Homo sapiens: one gene and its partner. The protein of the gene in region 1 purifies or fractionates together with the protein of each later gene. This does not show direct contact. Each region holds a gene or a part of one and is shown in the gene's direction. Other genes may lie near its edges.

Region 1 (7,639 bases):
CTCTTCATCCAAACACCAATAGATGACATTTTATCTAATATCATTCTCATTTACATCAGCCCAGTTTTAATATATTCATTACCAGCACATTTTTTTTCAAAATTCATGTTGTTTTGTAAAATATTTTTATTCATTGGACATTATCATTGTATTTCTAGTCATTAAACATTCTGTAACATCTTATTTTAATTCTATCCAGTTAATATAATTTTTTTCTCCCCTATCTTTAATGTTTTAGTTTAGTTATGCTATCGTATATAACAATGCAGTGAGCATACTTTTAGATAAATATTTGATTGTATCTGGTATTAAAATACATTTAAGGAGCTAGGCCCAGTGGCTCATGCCTATAATCCCAGCACTTTGGAAGGCCAAGATGGGAGACTCTCTGGAGGCCAGCAGTTTGACACCAGCCTGGGCAATATAGTAAGACCCCATCTCTACAGAAAACAAAATTAGCTGAATGTAATGATGTGTGCCTGGAGTCCTAGCTGCTTGGGAGGCTGAGGTGGGAGGATCATTTGATCCCAGGAGTTTGAGGCTGCAGTGAGCCATGATCGCAACACTGCACAACCTGAGTGACAGAGCGAGACCCTGACACTAAAACTTAAGTACATTTATGTTTAGTTTTTAATGATATTGAACATTTTTATGTGCTTTCTAGGGACTGTTTAAGTTGACTTTTGTATTTCCTCACACATCTGTGTGACGTTAGGTACAGATTGAGGGCATCTGTAACAGCTGAAATGTTCCCAAACAGGTAAAGCTCCAGATGGCTCTGGAACTTATGAGGAAAGAGTTGGAGGACGCCTTGACTCAGGAGGCCAACGTGGGGAAAAAGACTGTCATTTGGAAGGTAAGACCATGTTGGGGCTTTAGGAGGCTTGCCTGTTTGAAGGATCCAGATTCGGGTCAGTAATTCTTCTACCATCTTCCATTCTCCAGCACTTTTGTTCCATCTCCATATATGCCCAAGAGCACCTCAGAGCCATCCTGGGTCATCCCGTCCCCTCAAATGATATGGTTCATTTTTGTTCTTTTTGTCTCTACTGCCATCACCCAATCCAAATTATAATTAAATAGCTTTGCTAGTTTGATCTTCCTGTAAAACCCACTGCTGTATCCCTGTCACCTAGAATAGCATCTTATACTGTTGCTACCAGTTTGAAAATATTTGTTAGGTGAATGAAATAATGAATATTTCACAACTTTGTAACAGAAGAAGTGTAGCCCAAGGTGATCATCTTATATACAGGGTAATAATCTGAACGTTTAGCCTTTTTTTTCTATCATCTATACATACACATATTCCATTTTTTTATACCTCACTAGCTCTTTTTATTCCATGTTTCATTCATGCACATGTGCGTGCACACGTGTACACACACACACAGTGATTCATACACACACAGTGATTCACATACACACACACACACAGTGATTCTCAACCTGAGGCGATACCTGCCCCCCAAGATAACATTTTGCAATTTCTGGAGATGATATTTTTGGATGTCACAACTGAGGAGGGGTGGGTGCAGTGCACCTGTCATCTAGTAGAGGCAGGAATGCAGCTTAACACCCTGTAGTCCACAGGACAGTTCCCATATCTTGTGAGGAAAAAATGATCTGTTCAAGATGTCAGTAGTGTCAAGATTGAGAAACTACGTATAGAAACTGTGTGTATAGTTCTATATATTCATATAATGTATTATATAATATGATATATAATAGGTTATACTTTGCAGAATATTCCTATTCTTTCTCCTTTTCCAAATAACCCTTCTTTTCTGATCACTCTATATATTTATAATTATTTCCTTCTTGTTTTCTTTGAAAATTTAGTCTTATACTCTGTCTTTATACAGATATTACATAAAGACTTTTTAAACTATATTTTTCTTTATTTACTACATTACTAGATTACAATATAGATATATACGGATAGGAAAAGATAACACTTATCCCAGAAGAAACATGTACATTAAGGCCAGGCGTGGTGGCTCACACCTGTAATCTCAGCACTTTGGGAAGCCGAAGCAGGTGGATCACCTGAGGTCAGGAGTTCGAGACCAGCCTGACCAACACGGAGAAACCCCGTCTCTACTAAAAATACAAAAAAAAATTAGCCAGGCGTGGTGGCACATGCCTATAATCCCAGCTACTCGGGAGGCTGAGGCAGGAGAATTGCTTGAACCTAGGAGGCAGAGGTTGTGGTGAGCTGAGATCGTGCCATTGCACTCCAGCCTGGGCAACAAGAGTGAAACTCTGTCTCAGACAAAAAAAGGAAAAAAGAAAAGAAAAATGTACATTATAGGTAAATGATGTAGATAGTGATAGGAAAGGATAAAAGTTATCAATATTAAATAATATTGATGTTAATAACATTAGTACCTAACGTTACTCAGATGTGTGAAGAAATATTTAAACTTATTAACGTTGATACTGACAAACTTATCAATATTATTAACAAATATCTTTAAACTAGTAGTGACAGTATAAGATGCAATTCTAGGTGATAGGGATATAGCAGTGGGTTCTGCAGTAAGATCAAGCTAGTAAAGCATAGTTTCGATTGGGTAGTGGCAATGGAGATAAAAAGAACAAGAACAAAGCTTTACAGTATTAAATAATGTTCATTACTTGCCTATAATGTACATAGTGGTAGGATGTACATTATTTAATATTGTAATATTGATTGATAATTTTTGTTCTTTTCAGGCTGAAATACAAGTCAGTTGTTTTCAATCCTGGCCTGACCATAGATCTATAAAATCAGAATCCCCATATCGGAGAGCTGAGTTCCTGCATGTTTTAAGCCCTCTACAGATTATTCTTAAGTAGGGATGATACTAAGATCCCTGTTCTAAGCCAAGTAAACTTGCATGATCATTACCATCAAGAATGTCTCCATGTGAGCCAAATGCAGCAAACACATCTTTGGTCAAAAGTTATTCTAAATACTGCAAAACCACCTTTCCTTTTTCTCTGTCTGCAGATATAGTTGTGCTCAAGAGGGTGGTGTGAAAGGAAGATGGATTGCAGGCAAATCGCTTCCCACCTTCCCACCTCACACCCCCTCGTGCCCCAGGTATGACTCTACCCTTCTCCAGTGGCTGCGTTATTTGCCCCACCCCACGACAGCACAGCCTCTGATATGAAGAGAGCTTCTCATATTTACATGAGTTACACTTTCAGGAATCAGTGTATGGAATTCAGACTTGGCTGATTTCAGAAAGAAGATGAAGTTTTCTGAATCTGGTGATTTAGAAAATGGTGGAAGGAGGTAGAGATGGAAAATGGAAGGAAGTAGTTAAGTCTTAGGGGATGTTTAGTTTAAAAAGGTGATAGCTCATGCCTTTTAGTCAAAGCAAGAAGTTATCACGTTTAAAAACAGGCAAATAGGCTGGGCACAGTGGCTCACGCCTGTAATCCCAGCACTTTGGGAGGCCGATGCGGGCCGATCGTGAGGTCAGGAGTTTGAGACCAGCCTGACCAATACGGTGAAACCCTGTCTCTACTAAAAATACAAAAATTAGCTGGGCATGGTGCTGCGTGCCTGTAATCCCACTTACTCGGGAGGCTGAGACAGGAGAATCACTTGAACCCAGGAGGAGGAGGTTGTAGTGAGCCGAGATCGCGCCACTGCACTCTAGCCTGGGTGACAGAGCGAGACTCTGTCTCAAAAAAAAGATTAAAAAAAAAACCAGGCAAATGACTTCACCTACAAGGCCGTATAACAATGTAACAAAACTGCATTTGTACCCCATGAATATATACAAAAAATAAAATAAATCGATAAAACAGGACAGAGAATGGGAGGTATAGATACTTTGAGGGAATAATTTACCTCTCGTACTCAGCTTAAAGTTAGTTTTCGATATACTTATCTTGAGAGAAGAAAATCTAGAAACTAAGCCTGGGACGAAGTATGTTCCTTAGGTCTATTCAGAAACTGAAGACGTGAGATTCAGGTAGAAATTGGGATTAATTCTCTGACGTGAACTCTGAAATCAGTGGCCTGAGCATCACTTAGTTCTTTCTTGGCTTTGTAGAGAATGTTAGGCTTATGGTTGTGTTCACTATTACCATATTATGAAACAGCATTCATATTTTCTCATCTCTCAGCCTTTTCTTATTCAAACAAACATTTCTTCATCATTCAGTTGTTTCTAGTGGTTCTAGCGACTGATCTAGTAGTAAATAGTAACTTCTGCTGTGTGACTGCTCTATGCTAATCACTGTTCTTGTAGTTTAATAGATATTTAGCTGTAATCCACATACTCCTCTTTTTCCCCACATTTTTTAAGAGATGGAGTCTTGCTCTGTTACCCAGGCTGAAGTGCAGTGGTGCAATCACAGCTTACTGCAGCCTCGAGCTCTTAGACAAGTGATCCTCCCACCTCAGCCTTGTGGGTAGCTGGGACTACAGGGCTTACCACCATGCCTGGTCGGTTCATTTTAATTTTTTTAGAGATGGGGTCGCATTTTGCTTTGTTACCCAGGCTGGTCTTGAACTCCTGACCTCAAGCACTCCTCTTGCCTCGACCTCCCCAAAACCTCACATTTTGTATATGGTACTGAAACTTCAGTATAAAAGTGCCTTGCCCCCAAGCCTGTGGCAAAATGGGAACTCCAGTCCAACAGTATTTTTTAAACTTAATTTGAAAACTCTCCTGGGCTACTTCTTATATGAATGGACTCCAGTCTGTGCATGTTGTTAGGATGCAACCAGTGAGTCCACAGAGTTACGGAGCCCGGGGAAGTCTGGACATTACCTTCTCCAGCACTGTCCTGTACATGGCTGCTGGAGGCCAAGCACTGACGATGTGATCCACGGTGTCACCTCAGGAGAAAGTGGAAATGCAGAGGCAGCGCTTCAGATTGGAGTTTGAGAAGCATCGTGGCTTTCTGGCCCAGGAGGAGCAACGGCAGCTGAGGCGGCTGGAGGCGGAGGAGCGAGCGACGCTGCAGAGACTGCGGGAGAGCAAGAGCCGGCTGGTCCAGCAGAGCAAGGCCCTGAAGGAGCTGGCGGATGAGCTGCAGGAGAGGTGCCAGCGCCCGGCCCTGGGTCTGCTGGAGGTGAGGCCGGGTGCCAGAAAAGCAGGCAGATGTGAGACTCAGGTGACAGAGACTAGTACAATGGCTTTCAGAGACAAACACTTTGGCGTTTATGTTCTTTAGGAAAAGGGCACCCTCAAATTTACTCAGAAGGCAGCTTAAACACCCTAGAATTTACTCAGAAGCCATTCCTGGCATCAGAATCATGAGATTCTAGAGAATCATATAGTTTGAGTCTGGCATGGTGGCACATGCCTGTAGTCCCAGTTATTAGGGAGGCTGAGACAGGAGGATCGCTTGGGCCAAGGAAATCGAGACCTTCCTGGGCAACATAGCAAGACCCTGTCTCAAAAAACAAACAAACAGCATATAGTTTGTTTTAAGGACTAAAGAATTCTTAAAATTAATGATTTCTGAAAACTTAAACAGCTAGGGAAAGGACAAGCTACACTCTGCTGGCTGAGAAGTAATTCCTAAAACCTCAGAGTCAGTTTGTCCATGATAGCATTGCTGTTTTTTAGGGATGGCTAGCACAGAAAGTCTGCATAATACATTTCAGTGTCACTGGCCAGAAGGATGAATAATGATTTAAATTGTCCAGCTTGAAATTGTTATATTGGATTGTAAAGCAAACACTGATTTCCTGGCCCACATTGCATGCCCGTTCCAGGCATGGCGAGGAGGGATTACGTGGACTCCCGTGCAGCTTCCTCCCAGTCTGTTTGGGATTAGAGAGCAGAAAGACGAGTAAGAGTGAAAGGAAATCTTTGTTTTTAATCCTCTGTGAGGCATCATATCCCAAGTGAACAGGGAAAGCCAAAGTTGTTGATAGATCCATGTTTTCTTGGTAGAACCAATGGCAACAGAAATTTATCTGGACCGACTCCTATCTCCTCCCCAGTGACTCACGCAGGGGATTCTAAACTAAGTGATGCATGTTCTCATTTAAAAGCTGACCCACGGATTCCACCTTTTCTGACTCAGTTCTAGGCACTGAAAGTACCATGAATATAAATAATCCTATTAACTGTCTGTATAATATTTGCAAGTACAATGACTAAACAGGACTGATTATGAGGCAGGGGACCATTAGATGAATTTATAAAGCCATTTAATTTGTCTCATTTTATCTTATATATATTAAATTTATATTTTATTATTATTGCTATGTTCATTTCCTTGTTAGCAAACTAAGAGTCAGAAAGGAATTAATTTTCCAAATAGCAGAGAGCAAAATACAAGAACTTTGACGGTTTCTTTTCTTTTGTTTTTTTGAGACAGAGTCTCGCTCTGTTGCCCAGGCTGAGTGCAGGGTGCAGTGGTGTGATCTTGGCTCACTGCAACCTCTGTCTCCTTGGCTCAAGCGATTCTCCTGCCTCAGCCTCCTGAGTAGCTGGGATTACAGGCATGTGCCACCGCACCTGGCTAATTTTTTTTTTTGCGTTTTTACTAGAGATGGGGTTTTGCCATGTTGGCCAGGCTGGTCTTGAACTCCTAACCTTAGGTGATCCGCCCACTTTGGCCTCCCAAAGTGTTGGGATTAAAGGCGTGAGCCCCTGTGCCCGGCTTGACAATTTCAACAATAGTATTTATTGCTCTGCCTGCCTTGGCCTCCCAGAGTGCTGGGATTGTAGGCATGAGCCACCCCGCCTGGCATGGGAGGATATATTCTTAAATAAGGTATCTTATCTATCTATTTTTCTAAAAGGGCAGGATCTCACTCTGTCACTCACGCTGGAGTGCAGTGGCTCAATCATAGCTCACTGCAGCCTCAGTCTCCTAGGATCAGGTGATCCTTGTGCCTCAGCCTCCCGAGTAGCTGGGACTAAAGGTGTGCACCACCACGCCCAGCTAATTTAAAACAAATTTTTAGTAGAGATGAGGCTTGGTTGTGTTGCCCAGGCTGTATATTTTTATACTTTCCTTTCCCTTTCTTCCCTGGTACTAATAAGCTACATTTTACCCCTGAAGGCCAAGACCAAGGCCTGACATTCCCATACAGGGTAAAGCAAATTATTCCCCTGCTTTTATGTCATTAAAACTTATCTGACTGGCAACTGTTTTTAAGGGGAGAGGGGAAATGTATCCCAAATACAATTATTAATATAATAAATGTATCACAGATATATTTATTTAATAATCTACTTTGAGAAAATAATGTTACTAGTTATTAAAGGCTTCCTTTATTAATCTATTTAGATAACCTCCTCATAGGAATAGCTCTGGTACGTTGGTTCAGAGAATTAGGAATTTATAATTCCTATAAAGATATTTAGGGAAACATTTTGTGTCTTTATTTGAGGAACCTATCCATGCCCCTCAAATAAATTCTATGAGTACTTAGGATCTATTTTATCCTGTTCCGTCTGAATTACATGCAGAATGTTACTCTGTTACAATATCCAAGTAGCAGAATTATTAATTCAGAAGATAATTAAATTGATAGGTGTTGCAGGAATTAACCTAAACTTTGTATAGCTTTAAAGAAAAGAGATTTGTCTGAGTGTGGTGACTCACGCCTGTAATCCCAGCACTTTGGGAGGCTGAGGTGGGTGGATCACCTGAGGTCAGGAGTTCGAGA
Region 2 (7,496 bases), on another chromosome or scaffold:
TGCACTGGACAAAACTATGCAGTGAGAGGTTAGGCAACTTGCTCAGGGTCCCAGACCCATCCAAGGACTGGGTCAGGACCAACACATGGTCTGGAGTGGTGCCACATGCTTTTGCACCTATGCTGTGACCCACAATGTGTGCGAAGCCCGTGCACAAGAAAAACTCAACTCCAGGGGGTAACTTGTCACTATGACCTCAATAATGGCAGCAGGGACTCACCTCCAAAGGCCCTCTGAGCCAAGGCTGAGCAGTTGCTTTATGTCTGGACATTTGCCTTTCTACCTAGTCCGGTTTTCAGACTGGGGTCTGAAAGCCCTAGAGACATTGGGCTGTAGGAGGGAGGGGGTGGTGTGTCCAGCTCTGCAGATCCAGAGTGGCCACTCCCCTCAGGGCCCTGTGATTCTGAGAATCTAGCTAGGACCAGAGCTGGGACCCAGGTTGGGATGGGGGCAAGATTCCGCTGGCTTTGGGTGGAGGCAGGAAAATTCTTCCCTCAATTCCCCCTGAGGCTAGGGCTTTGTGAAGAGCTATCTTGGGCTGGCCCGCTGTTCCATCTGCCCTTCCCCATCCTGCGAATCTGGCTGCAGGCTCCCTGATGGGGCTGCCAACCATAGCCCAATGAATAGGGTGACTCACACCTCAACTATTGCTCCCCACTTTTTGTGCTGAACAAGCGTGAGGTGGAAGGGCTGCAAAGTTGAGGCCACTAAAGCTTTCTTTCTCTCCTGGAGGGGCCTGGGGGCTGGGGTGGCACGTGCAGGCTACTTGTTAGTGGGCTCAGATGCAGAACACCCTCAGAATAAGGGTGAGGGAAGAAGAAGGATGGAGGGAAGCCTAAGGAATAAAGAATCCTAAATGCTAGATTAAATCCTAAATCCTAAACACAGAGCATACCCAGTGTGAAGGGGACAACAGACTCATCCTGTAGACACGGACTGAGAGACAAAATCAGATGGACAAGACTCTGAGACTCAGCATAGGGCTGGAGGATTCACAGAAATATATGTGAATATATATAATGTATATACATTCTGTTATACATAGGTTGGTGTAGATATAGGTTGGTGCAAAAGCAATTGAGGTTCTTGCCATTGTGGGCTTCACATAACAATCTGGGGAAGGAGCGGAGGAAGAGGATTTTCTGTCTGTCAATTCACTCCAAAAAATATCTGCAGAACACTTCCAGTGCCCAAGGCTGGGCTGAGGGTGTGGGCCATGCAGAGATGTTCCCTAACCTTGGAGACTGCCCTGCTGGGGGGGACTTAGAGGATATGTACAAATGCTGTTTTATGGAACATGTTCTATTTATCATGCTCTATTAAATGTATCTTCTACTAAAGCCCTACAGATTGGAGTGGAGGCTCTGAGGAGAAGGAATCCTGGGCTGGGATGGCAGGATTTGCCTAACCCTTGTTCCACGAATGGATACCACCCTCTCCCTGGTGTCTGTGAAGGGCTTCTCCATGTATGAAATGCTGACCAGGTCCTACATTCCCTGCACAGCTCTGCGAGAGAGGTCAGGGCAGCCAGCTTACTGTCCTTTCTCTGATGGGGAGAGCAGCAGGGCGGGCCCTGCACTGTCTTCTGCTGACAAGGAAAGCAGCACCCAGAGGAGAAGCTGAGCAACATGTCCCACCAAGCCTGGGAACTGCCTCTGTGGGGTGCCCAGCAGGAAAGCTCCCTGGTGAGCCTAACACAATCCCTCCCTTCCTGCCACAGTGAAATTCCAGGCTGGGGTGGGACTCTCCCGAGCTGCAGTGGTGCTGGTGCCTGGCTCCCCACCAGGAGCGGCTCCATTATTTATACCTGTCCAGGTCTGGCATTGAGGGAGGGGCTGCCCTGCCTGCTCATGGGAGGATTCCCACGAAGCTCGGATAGAAGAGTGCTGCTGCTTCTCCCATGGAGCACCCACATGCTCCCTGCTCCCATGGAGCACCACACACTCACCGTTGGTCCCTGGCACATGGATCTGAGCTTGGCACACTCTAGCAATCCTCAGACTAGCCAGAACGCATTCCTGCTCTGCCAAGTCCTCTTTCTTCACAACACAGCTGGGAGGAGAATGAATGGGGAGAAGAGAATGTCCCAGTGTCTCAGGAGGGGTGGGGCTTCCCTGAGGGCAGTGAGGTCTGTACCCGGGACCTGTGAGTGTATGTGGTGGTGGGGATATACCCCGATATCGATCTTTGAGTGGAGCAGGAGCATCCCACTACGAGTCCTCAGACACTTGCTTCAGGCTTGGATCTGTTCTGTTCTATCAGGAGCCGAGGGTCCCCTGGTATGTCTCAGGCCTCCAGGACACTCACATCTGTTCTCCAGAAAGCAACCAAATGTGAAAATGGTGAGCTCAGCACAATTCATCTCTGAGGGTCTCAGAAATGCTCCAGCCAGGGAGGCCACCCAAACCATTTTGCTCAAGACCTGTAAGACCGGCTCCGGCCATTGGTCTGTCTGCCGAGATTGACCTGTCAGCTGCTTGCTCATCGCAGCCCTCTGGTGAGAAGTCACTGTTTCAGCTGATCCTCAGCACCAGGGAGTCATTTTCCCACTGCCTTGGCTTCCTTGTGGCCAACCGCAGGCCCTGGTGAGAGATTCCTGAGCCTGGGTCTGGTCCTGTTCTTCTACTCTTGAGAATATAGCCCCTCCTCCCTGAGGCTTTGAAGCCATCCCCATTGCATTCCTACCTCCAGCCTCGGGCCACAGGGCGCCCCCGAAACTCTGAACAGCCCAAGCACTGTCCTGCCTGAGAGCCCTGCTTCTATTTGGGGGACGGCAGAGAGGTGGCCCCACTCAGATCTGCTGCCAAAAAGAGTGGGTGTGGTTTAGAACAGACGTGTGTTAAAACCTCATCAGAAACCCCCTTTCCTCCACCTGGTGCCACAACCCCCCAGACAAGTTTTGCAGAGGGGATCTCAAAGGGCCCTCCCTAAAGCAGCTGGCAGATTGTCATGCCAGCTGCCTGGGCCCACAGGCCTGCTCTGGCTAGCCTTTCTGGCAGGACAATCCATAGACTTAGAATCCCGTTTTCCATTGCCTTGGCCCTGAAGGAGGCTGTGGGCTACAGCATAGAGAAAGCAGAGCAAGTCCCGCTGCTTGGAACAGGGTGGTTCGCCGTTATAACAGGCCGTCAGACTCTCAACATGTTCCTGATGAGATTAGAAGCTCCTGCAGGTATGTGTTTGTGGCGGCCTTCAGCCTGTATCAACACATACGATGACTCATTTCTTCCCTAGTGGAATAGAGCTTGCTGGAACACACCTGGGGGGCTGGGGAACCGGCAGAGTAGCTACCCCCAAAGAGAGACGCTATAGCCCATGAGTCTCAGGGTTTTTTTTTAAGGGATTGCATGGGATCCCCGGGTTTCCTAAACCCCCCACAGAGTCCTGCCCAGGCCAAAGAGCAAGGAAAAGGTCAAAGGGCAGAAAAAATGCTGAGTTAGGAGGAGCTATGGAAGGATAAACCTGGCCTTAAAGAGGTCAAAGTGGTTTATAGGGGGCGCTGAGGGCTTCCCACATTCTCTGGCCTAAACCTTGCAGGCAGATCTGCCCAGTGGGCTCTGGGATAGCTGTGCCTTCCCTAAGAAAAAAATTGTGCAGAAAAGGATGAAACTCTATTTTCCCTCTAGCACATAACCAAGAATATAAGGCTACAGATTGCCTTTCCCAGAGGGGAAAACCCTGCAGCAACCTGCTGCCTGGAAAAGTGTAAGAGCAGATCACTGGGGAATCGTTTGCCCCCCGCTGATGGACAGCTTCCCCAAGCTGGAAGGGCAGGTGCTCAGCATGTACCGTACTGGGATGGTTGTCAATACTCCTGGTCCTGTAAGAGTCCCCAGGACACTGGCCATGCCAATGCCCCCTCAGTTCCTGGCATCCTTTTTGGGCTGCTCACAGCCCCCAGCCTCTATGGTGAAGACATACTTGCTAGCAGCGTCACCAACTTGCTGCCAAGAGATCAGTGCTGCAAGGCAAGGTTATTTCTAACTGAGCAGAGCCTGCCAGGAAGAAAGCGTTTGCACCCCACACCACTGTGCAGGTGTGACCGGTGAGCTCACAGCTGCCCCCCAGGCATGCCCAGCCCACTTAATCATTCACAGCTCGACAGCTCTCTCGCCCAGCCCAGTTCTGGAAGGGATAAAAAGGGGGCATCACCGTTCCTGGGTAACAGAGCCACCTTCTGCGTCCTGCTGAGCTCTGTTCTCTCCAGCACCTCCCAACCCACTAGTGCCTGGTTCTCTTGCTCCACCAGGAACAAGCCACCATGTCTCGCCAGTCAAGTGTGTCCTTCCGGAGCGGGGGCAGTCGTAGCTTCAGCACCGCCTCTGCCATCACCCCGTCTGTCTCCCGCACCAGCTTCACCTCCGTGTCCCGGTCCGGGGGTGGCGGTGGTGGTGGCTTCGGCAGGGTCAGCCTTGCGGGTGCTTGTGGAGTGGGTGGCTATGGCAGCCGGAGCCTCTACAACCTGGGGGGCTCCAAGAGGATATCCATCAGCACTAGTGGTGGCAGCTTCAGGAACCGGTTTGGTGCTGGTGCTGGAGGCGGCTATGGCTTTGGAGGTGGTGCCGGTAGTGGATTTGGTTTCGGCGGTGGAGCTGGTGGTGGCTTTGGGCTCGGTGGCGGAGCTGGCTTTGGAGGTGGCTTCGGTGGCCCTGGCTTTCCTGTCTGCCCTCCTGGAGGTATCCAAGAGGTCACTGTCAACCAGAGTCTCCTGACTCCCCTCAACCTGCAAATCGACCCCAGCATCCAGAGGGTGAGGACCGAGGAGCGCGAGCAGATCAAGACCCTCAACAATAAGTTTGCCTCCTTCATCGACAAGGTGAGCTACGATCTTTTGTAAAAAATCACTGTGGGTCTGAAATAAATGCCAAAGAGAGAGAAAGAAGGAAGATGTTTTGGCTTTGTGCAAATACTTTTATAGTTGTACAGTTCTGTGTTTCCGTTTGTTTCTGTGCCCTGGATTTGTGGACACGTTCTGAATTAGACTGGCAGCTGGGAAGGGAGAATTATTTCTTCCCATTCAGAGGTTAGCTCACAAGGGCCTCTTAACAACTGTTGGACAGAGAGATGAATTTCATGCCATATATAAAGGGGCTGACTGTACAGGAAGGTAGACAAGTGCATGGGCAGCAGCCTGAGTGCCTTTGCAGCCACCCCTGAGCCGGGACACACTCCAAGCAGCACTCCTAGTGCTTTCTGTGCCCTGGATAGGTGTCCTATCTCCCCCTGGAAAAGTGAGTTTGGGTGCCTCAGTCTGCACCTCCCCTCCTGGGGCCCAGGGCCAGGCACAGTGCACAGAAAAGCTTTAGAGGGACGGAAAGAGGTGGGAGGCACCTTAGTGAGTTGATCATAGAACATGAAATCCAAGTTTCTCTATCTTCAAACCCTGCTCCCCTCCAGGTGCGGTTCCTGGAGCAGCAGAACAAGGTTCTGGACACCAAGTGGACCCTGCTGCAGGAGCAGGGCACCAAGACTGTGAGGCAGAACCTGGAGCCGTTGTTCGAGCAGTACATCAACAACCTCAGGAGGCAGCTGGACAGCATCGTGGGGGAACGGGGCCGCCTGGACTCAGAGCTGAGAAACATGCAGGACCTGGTGGAAGACTTCAAGAACAAGTGAGTTGGGGTGGAGGGTGGACACAGGGGAGGGTGGTGTCTTCTTGGTACCAGATGGGCTTTGTTACTAGTCTACTACCATGCCTTCCTTTGGGGCTGGGAGGATATACCTTCCATGGACACCTCCAGTACTAAAACAAACAAACAAATACACAAGCCAGGCTCATGTTTAGAAAGTTCCAGCCCCAGGCTCAGGCCCTCTGCAAGGAACTTAGTCAACAGCCAGAGCAACATGCTCTGTGCCCTTGGCACTACCTGGTGAAATCTGCCCTGATGTAAGGCTTGCTCTCTGGGACTTTCCTCCCCGGTACATGGGCCTTTGGATAGATTTGTCTCAAAGCAGGAGCTGGTGACATAACCCAGCTTGGTGGCTCAAGTAATTTCTTTAGTCTTATGAACCAGCAACTAGGATGCTAGATTTAATTTTGTTTCTTTTCTTTTTTTTTTTAAAGCCTCTGAAAGCTCAAAAAAGAACACTAGAGAAATTGACTAGGTAATGCAGTTGGGGAGAAACAGCACAGCTTTTCTGCAGGAATCTGCTTGAAACAACTGAATTAGAGCAATAATAGAATTATTATATGGTAGGCAGTTACAGAGAAAGCAGTATTTAAATGGGGAGGGACCTTGGCCAGAGGTTCATGCTACCAGTGTCCCCTCCCTCTCTGCCTATGAGGAGAAGCCCCTTCCCACTGCAAAAGTAGGCTTACAGTTGACTGCATAATAAAGACCCCTTACCTGTTGCTCATCCTCTGACAAACACTTCCCATCCCTTTCACCACCAGGTATGAGGATGAAATCAACAAGCGTACCACTGCTGAGAATGAGTTTGTGATGCTGAAGAAGGTGCGTGTGGGTGGGAGAGAACCAGCAGCCTGCAGCTATGCTCTCTAAGCGTGGAGCTCACTTGAGTAGGGTGACGGTGTGTGCAGTGCCAATCATCCCTGTTTCCCCAGGATGTAGATGCTGCCTACATGAACAAGGTGGAGCTGGAGGCCAAGGTTGATGCACTGATGGATGAGATTAACTTCATGAAGATGTTCTTTGATGCGGTAAGAAACTTATCTAAATTTTTCACATGGGTGGGTTTTTTTTCCTCAAGTTGTCATATCACAATGAGTGAAAGATTTGAATGGAACTGACATTAAATAACACAACACAGAACCAGATGACCGACTCCAAATCTCCCTGCAGGAGCTGTCCCAGATGCAGACGCATGTCTCTGACACCTCAGTGGTCCTCTCCATGGACAACAACCGCAACCTGGACCTGGATAGCATCATCGCTGAGGTCAAGGCCCAGTATGAGGAGATTGCCAACCGCAGCCGGACAGAAGCCGAGTCCTGGTATCAGACCAAGGTGGGTGCTCTGATGACTGTCTCCTGAGTGAGGGGACACACCCATGTCTAGGATTCTAGGCCATGACGACACTAAGAATGGGGCTCCTGGAACCTGCTGAAGCCCATTGGGATGCTTTATAGGAATGGCTGTGTAGACAATTTCCATCTAAACCCAAGGACCTGAGAAATAATCTCACTCTGAATCTCACACCAGTGTCTCCAGGAGAGCAAAGGCACTAGACTAGCTCAGCCTTGGAAAAGCCTGAACCAGCCCCACACTATTTGCCACCACTTAGTACTCACTGCCTGTGAACTTTGGGAAAGTTCTTCCCATTCTCATATAAACAGAATCTTTCCTCTTTCCTGGCTGCATCAGTATGAGGAGCTGCAGCAGACAGCTGGCCGGCATGGCGATGACCTCCGCAACACCAAGCATGAGATCTCTGAGATGAACCGGATGATCCAGAGGCTGAGAGCCGAGATTGACAATGTCAAGAAACAGGTAGGGTGAGATTGAAAGAGGGCAAGGAAGGGGCCTGAGTTCTAA

The links. The genes of interacting proteins can lie anywhere in the genome.
Region 2: the proteins of TRIM58 (region 1) and KRT5 purify together in Homo sapiens (affinity purification with mass spectrometry, with the first as the bait; 2 studies listed by BioGRID). This does not show direct contact.

Annotation. Positions count from the first base shown.
Region 1 is NC_000001.11:247,859,857-247,867,495, forward strand, and holds part of TRIM58 (E3 ubiquitin-protein ligase TRIM58), read left to right. Parts: intron 1-760; coding exon 761-856; intron 857-4,848; coding exon 4,849-5,079; intron 5,080-7,639. UniProt on the Homo sapiens protein: E3 ubiquitin ligase induced during late erythropoiesis. Directly binds and ubiquitinates the intermediate chain of the microtubule motor dynein (DYNC1LI1/DYNC1LI2), stimulating the degradation of the dynein holoprotein complex.
Region 2 is NC_000012.12:52,517,062-52,524,557, reverse strand, and holds the start of KRT5 (keratin, type II cytoskeletal 5), read left to right. Parts: upstream 1-4,163; 5' UTR 4,164-4,261; coding exon 4,262-4,816; intron 4,817-5,397; coding exon 5,398-5,612; intron 5,613-6,394; coding exon 6,395-6,455; intron 6,456-6,565; coding exon 6,566-6,661; intron 6,662-6,803; coding exon 6,804-6,968; intron 6,969-7,325; coding exon 7,326-7,451; intron 7,452-7,496. UniProt on the Homo sapiens protein: Required for the formation of keratin intermediate filaments in the basal epidermis and maintenance of the skin barrier in response to mechanical stress.